Linked DNA regions of Homo sapiens. The protein of the gene in region 1 purifies or fractionates together with the protein of each later gene. This does not show direct contact. Each region holds a gene or a part of one and is shown in the gene's direction. Other genes may lie near its edges.

Region 1 (3,500 bases):
CATTGCCATGGCGATGAGCCTCCTGTTCATCATCCTGCTTCGCTTCCTGGCTGGTATTATGGTCTGGGTGATGATCATCATGGTGATTCTGGTGCTGGGCTACGGTGCGTCACCCCCTCCCTGTGGCTTCTCTTTCCTGAATCCGCACACTGCCCTGCCCTTTCCCGTGGAAATGGCCCATCAGGAAAACAAAAAAAAGTCAGGCCGGGCGTGGTGGCTCACGCCTGTAATCCCAGCACTTTGGGAGGCCGAGGCAGGCAGATCACCCGAGGTCAGGAGTTCAAGACCAGCCTGACCAACATGGAGAAACCCCGTCTCTACTAAAAATACAAAATCAGCCGGGCATGGAGGTGCATGCCTGTAATCCCAGCTACTCAGGAGGCTGAGGCAGGAGAATCGCTTGAACCTGGGAGGCGGAGGTTGTGGTGAGCCGAAATCACGCCATTGCACTCCAGCCTGGGCAACAAGAGCGAAACTCCATCTCAAAAAAAAAAAAAAAAGAAAAAATGTCTCAGCACCGTAGTTAAGGATGCATACTCTGGTATCAGAATAGCAGAGGTTCAAATCCTGGCTTTGCCAATTCTTTGGGCAAGTGCCTCAACCTAACTGTGCTTCAATTTCTTTCTTTTTTTTTTTTGAGACGGAGTTCTGTTCTTGTCACCCAGGCTGGAGTGCCATGGCGCGATCTTGGCTCACTGCAACCTCCGCCTCCTGGGTCCAAGCTATTCTCCTGCCTCAGCCTCCCAAGTAGCTGGGATTACAGGCATGCACCTCCATGCCCGGCTGATTTCGTATTTTTAGTAGAGATGGGGTTTCTCCATGTTGGTCAGGCTGGTCTCGACCTCCTGGCCTCAGGAGATCTGCCCGCTTCAGCCTCCCAAAGTGCTAGGATTACAGGCAGGAGCCACCGCGCCCGGACTGCTTCAATTTATTTCTCTATAAAATGAGGGTAATTCATATTTCTAGTTGGCAAACTAAATGACAAGGAGGTAATGAGCAGATAAAATATGGGTAGGGGCCTGTTTAGTTCAGGCCTGTGGAATCCAGAGGCACAATATCGTGCTCAACAAAACAGTGCTTCATATTTTGGATTTTTGTTGTTTTTGAGTTGTTGTTTTGTTGTTGTTGTTGAGACGGAGTCTTGCTTTGTCACCCAGGCTGGCGTGCAGTGGTGCAGTCTCGGCTCACTGCAATCTCTGCCTCCCGGGTTCAAGCAATTTTCCTACCTCGCCTCCCGAGTATCTGGGATTACAGGCGCACACCACCATGCCCGGCTAATTTTTTTTGTATTTTTAGTAGAGATGGGGTTTTACCATATTGGCCAGGCTGGTCTCGACTTCCTCGTGATCTGCCTGCCTCGACCTCCCAAAGTGCTGGGATTACAGACGTGAGCCACCGCGCCCAGCCTTGATTTGTTTTTTGAGACAGAGTCTCACTCTGTCACCCAGGCTGGAGTTCAGTGGCACAATCACAGCTCACTGCAGCCTTGACCTCCTGGGCTCAAGTGATCCTCCCGTCTTGGCCTCCCAAGTAGCTGAAACCACAGGCAAGCACCATCATGCCTGGCTAAATTTTTAATATTTTTGTAGAGACAGGTTCTCCCTATGTGGCCCAGGCTAGTCTTGAACTCCTGAGCTTGAGCAGTCCTCCCGCCTTGGCCTCCCTAAGTGTTGGGATTACAGGCGCAAGCCACTGTGCCTGGCCCATATTTTGATTATTCCTTGAACTTTCCTGGAAGAAAAATGCTTGGCAATCCAATTTGAGGACACTCATAGTAAAATATTCATATTAATAGTGGTTTCTAGCTGGGTGCGGTGGCGCACGCCTGTAATCCCAGCAATTTGGGAGACAGAGGTGGGCGGATCACCTGAGGTTGGGAGTTCGAGACCAGCCTGACCAACATGTAGAAACCCCATCTCTATTTTTTTTTTTTTTTGAGACAGAGTCTCTCACTGTCGCCCAGGCTGGAGTGCAGTGGCGCGATCTCAGCTCACTGCAACCTCCGCCTCCCGGGTTCAAGCAATTCTCCTACCTCAGTCTCCTGAGTAGCTGAGATTACTGGCGCCCACCACCACGCCCAGCTAATTTTTTTTTTTTTTTTTTTTTTTTGTATTTTTAGTAGACACGGGGTTTCACCATGTTGGTCAGGCTGGTCTCGAACTCCTGACCTCGTGATCCACCCGTCTTGGCCTCCCAAAGTGCTGGGATTACAGGCGTGAGCCACCGCGCCCGGCCAACCCCATCTCTATTAAAAATACAAAATTAGCCGGGCATGGTGGCGCATGCCTGTAATCCCAGCTGCTCGGGAAGCTGAGGCAGGAGAATCGCTTGAACCCGTGAAGTGGAGGTTGCGGTGAGCCGAGATTGTGCCATTGAACTCCAGCCTGGGCAACAAGAGTGAAACTCCGTCTCAAAAAAAAAAAAAAAGAGAGAGAACTTAGACCATGGCAGCATATGATTATGATTCCAAGTAGGGGGAAAGGGTTCTGGAAGTTCTCTTCTGAAGGTGACACTTGAGCAGAGACCTAAGGATGTGTGGGATCCAGCCATGGGGAGAGAATGCACCGGGCGGTGGGAACTGCAAGTGTAAAGTCCCTGAGGCAGAAGCCTCGATGTTTGCTTCTGTTAAATGGGGGCAGTTGTAGCTGCTTTGCAAAGTTGCAGGAGGCACTGCTGGACTGAGCTTGTGGTTCCCCCATGCAGGAATATTTCACTGCTACATGGAGTACTCCCGACTGCGTGGTGAGGCCGGCTCTGATGTCTCTTTGGTGGACCTCGGCTTTCAGACGGATTTCCGGGTGTACCTGCACTTACGGCAGACCTGGTTGGCCTTTAGTGAGTCACAGTCTCCCATTCCTGCCCCCACATGAGGCCTTGGAGGGAGTGGGGAGCCCAGCCGGCTCAGCCTTTGCCCTTTGCAGTGATCATTCTGAGTATCCTTGAAGTCATTATCATCTTGCTGCTCATCTTTCTCCGGAAGAGAATTCTCATCGCGATTGCACTCATCAAAGAAGCCAGCAGGTGGGGGGCCAGGGTGCCAGGGGCCAGGATGGAGCTGTCCCTAGAGTTGTGTCTTTTGCCCTGACGCCTGTGTCTCTGCTCTTCCCTAGGGCTGTGGGATACGTCATGTGCTCCTTGCTCTACCCACTGGTCACCTTCTTCTTGCTGTGCCTCTGCATCGCCTACTGGGCCAGCACTGCTGTGTATCTGCCCCCAGACACTGATCTCTGACCCCAGGGATGGCTAAAGACCAACTTTGCCTAGAAGTGACCTGCAGCTTAGGGATAGGGCTGGAAACTGGTGGGAGAATGGATTCTTTCCCACAAAAGTCCCTGGGGTCCTCAGTCCTAGACCTCTGCTTCCTTAACGAACCTCCAGCTTCCTGTCCACTTCCAACGAAGCGGTCTATAAGATCTTTGATGACAGCCCCTGCCCATTTACTGCGAAAACCTGCAACCCAGAGGTGGGCGTCCCCGGGGTGGGGAGGGCAGGTATTGCCC
Region 2 (3,500 bases), on another chromosome or scaffold:
ATGCCCAGTAGGCATACTTAGCTTTGCCAAAACCTTGTCTCAATTTGAATATTTGATTAGAGGAGCTAGGCTCTGTCAGCTGTATCAGATTATGAATTTTTGATAACTTTTACAGTGGTGGTTAAACGAAGTAAGAAATTTCTCTTGAGTTTCTGCTGTGGGAAAGAGCAGAAGTGCTTTTCAAGGTTTCTGGACTGATCTTGTTGAAAATGCTAGTACTGGGTTCTTGTCTATGAATTGGAGTGTTCATGCAAATTCTGGTATATGACTGCTACCCTTTCTTTGCTAAGCACTTGGTTAGCCCATTTTAAGCATAATAATCCATTTCTTGAACACTGACACCTTTTCTTCATAGTGATATAATTAATACCATTGCTCAGATTGGCTTCACCAACTTACTGTGCAGGTCTTTTAGTTATTTATCCGTATTACTGATTTGTCAGAAGATAGTGTAGCTTCTGTATTATTTCAGTTGCTATAATGCAGTCCTTCTCAACCCCGGACACACATTAGAATCACCTGAAAAAACTTCAAAGATCTGTCTCCATATCTATACTTACGTGAAGGTATAATTTATACCTAGATTTATATAAACACAGTATCTCGCCCCAGAACAACTGAGTCACAGAGTCTGGTGGTGGCGCCTGGGCATTGCTGTACATTTAAAAACAACCCCTAGGGGATTCTAGTGTATGGCTGGCTTTGAGGACCACTAATGTAAGGGCCCCCGGGCCTTGGGTTGATACCTTCCTAATTTCTGGAGTTAATTTGGTTCGTTTGGCTAAGCCCACTCTGTGGGCATCTGTGCTTTAAAGGTGGTGACCTGCTTGGATGGAAGAAGACCACTCTTCTGTCCAGGAATGGGAATAGCCACATCCAGATTAACACTTAAAACACCTAAGAGGCTCTCAGTGTGTATTCATGAGAGATATGGGAGTTGCAGTTCTGCCTTGGGAAATCTAAACACACGCATACACATAAGAACGTGATCTGTAGGTCACAGGTGTACATGACATCCTTGGGGGGTGATCAAGGAAATAGGGACCAGTATTGGGGGCCTACCTCTGGAGAGTCTTAGGGGTGTGAGCCTTCAGTTTGGTCCAAAAAGAAGGGATGACTGTTAATTAGCAATGAAGAGAGGGAAGGGCATTTTACTTCAGGAAGTAACATGAATTTCAGACCCTTAGGAGTGTGGTACAGGAAGCGTGCTTTGAGGCAAACCCAGGCTTAGATTGGAGAAGTCCAGGAGGGCTCAGTTGATGAAGGGCTTTATTTTGTAAGTTCTGAACCTCCAGATTTTGGCAGTGAATGCAGAGGTACAGTCAGTTTTCTTTAGGTTGAGTTGCAGAAGCAGTGCTTTGCTGAGTGCAAGCCGGTAGCCAGTTACCAGTCTTTAGGGGACATTCACCTGTATAATAATATGCAGTGGTTTATTCTTATACCAGCTCTCATAGTTTTGTGTCCTTGAGTATGATTGCAACACATAAATTATTTAAAACTGTAGCTAGCAGCTTTATTTTCATTAACTGAAAAAATGGGGTTCTAGAAATGCAGTTTGTTATATCTTAGTAATTACAAACTCTCCATTTCCTTAATCCTCAGATTTTCTTAGTGGCTCTCAGAGCTTATCCCTGAGTAGAGTATTTTCATTGTAATATTAAATGTGGGGATAGAGGACTTGGAGCTGCCTCTTATGGTTTTTGAATCTGGTGTTCTGAGGAGATGACAGTCATCATCATCGGACATTGGTAAAGTCCTTGGCAGTTTCCTATGTGCTCTCGTGTACTGCCTCATTGATCATATTGATGGAGGTATATGCTGCCTAAAGTTTCAGTGTGACTCCGGTACTGTTTCTCCTTGAGCCCAGCTATGGCCTCAACACAGCCTTAGAGGCAGCCATCCCAGTTCAGCTGGGCTGGCAGGTGAGGTGAACTCTGGTGGCCAGTACAGTCATGACAAAGACTCTGCCTGGTGTCTTGCTTGGAGTAGAGACATATGTGACAGGTTTTGACAGTTGATATGCTCAGACTTCTCATTTGTATTCTTATTTCTGTTGGCAAGAGCACAGGTTGTATGACTTTACAAACTTTAGTTTCTCTGTGCCTCTTTTTCCTTAAGACAGTTGGCTGGGTGTGGTGGCTCACACCTGTCATTTCAGCACCTTGGGAGGCCAACGTTTGTGGATGGATTGCTTGAGCCCAGGAGTTCAAGACCAGCCTGGGCAACATGGCAAAACACCATCTCTACAAAAAATACAAAAATTAGACGGGTGTGGTGGTGCACACCTGTAGTCCCAGCTACTCAGGAGGCTGAGCTGCGAGTATTGATTCAGTCTCAGAGGGTTGAGCCTGCAGTGAGATGTGATCACATCACTGCACTACAGCCTGGGCAACAGAGTGAGACCCTGTCTCAAAAAAAAAAAAAAAAAAAGAAAAGAGTTACTATTACCAATGTTCGCAGCAGCATTATTCACAATAGCAAAAAGGCAGAAACCCAAATGTCTATTAACAGATACATGGATAAACAAAATGTGGTGTATACATACCATAGAATATTATTCAACTATAAATGAGAATGAGATTGATACATGCTTTACCATGAACCTTGAAAATATTATGCAAAGTGAAATGAGCAAATGCAAAAGGACAAATAAATGATCTTACTTACATGAGGTATCTAATATAAGCAAATTCATAGAGACATTAAGTAGAATAGTGTTTCCTGGGGCTAAGGGGAGAGGGAACAGGAAGTTAGCATGGCATTTCTGTCTAGGATGATGAAGAGTTCTGGAAATAGATAGTGGTGATGGGTGTACAATATTGTGAATTTGCTTAATACCACTGAATTGTATACTCAATAGTTAAAATTTTAACTTTTTTTTTTTTTCAACTTTTTTTTTTTTTATTGATCATTCTTGGGTGTTTCTCGCACAGGGGGATTTGGCAGGGTCATAGGACAATAGTGGAGGGAAGGTCAGCAGATAAACAAGTGAACAAAGGTCTCTGGTTTTCCTAGGCAGAGGACCCTGCGGCCTTCCGCAGTGTTTGTGTCCCTGGGTACTTGAGATTAGGGAGTGGTGATGACTCTTAAGGAGCATGCTGCCTTCAAGCATCTGTTTAACAAAGCACATCTTGCACCGCCCTTAATCCATTTAACCCTGAGTGGACACAGCACATGTTTCAGAGAGCACAGGGTTGGGGGTAAGGTCACAGATCAACAGGATCCCAAGGCAGAAGAATTTTTCTTAGTACAGAACAAAATGAAAAGTCTCCCATGTCTACTTCTTTCTACACAGAGACGGCAACCATCCGATTTCTCAATCTTTTCCCCACCTTTCCCCCCCTTCTATTCCACAAAACCGCCATTGTCATCATGGCCCGTTCTCAATGAGCTGCTGGGCACACCTCCCAGACGGGGTGGTGGCCGGGCAGAGGTGCCCCTCACCTCCCGGACGGGGCGGCTGGCCGGGCGGGGGGCTGACCCCCCCACCTCCCTCCCGG

What was found.
Region 2: the proteins of SLC44A2 (region 1) and UBAC2 purify together in Homo sapiens (affinity purification with mass spectrometry; one large-scale study listed by BioGRID and IntAct). This does not show direct contact.

The regions. Positions count from the first base shown.
Region 1 is NC_000019.10:10,632,053-10,635,552, forward strand, and holds part of SLC44A2 (choline transporter-like protein 2), read left to right. Parts: coding exon 1-104; intron 105-2,703; coding exon 2,704-2,835; intron 2,836-2,921; coding exon 2,922-3,021; intron 3,022-3,110; coding exon 3,111-3,203; intron 3,204-3,378; coding exon 3,379-3,463; intron 3,464-3,500.
Region 2 is NC_000013.11:99,238,854-99,242,353, forward strand, and holds part of UBAC2 (ubiquitin-associated domain-containing protein 2 isoform 1 precursor), read left to right. Parts: intron 1-3,500. UniProt on the Homo sapiens protein: Restricts trafficking of FAF2 from the endoplasmic reticulum to lipid droplets.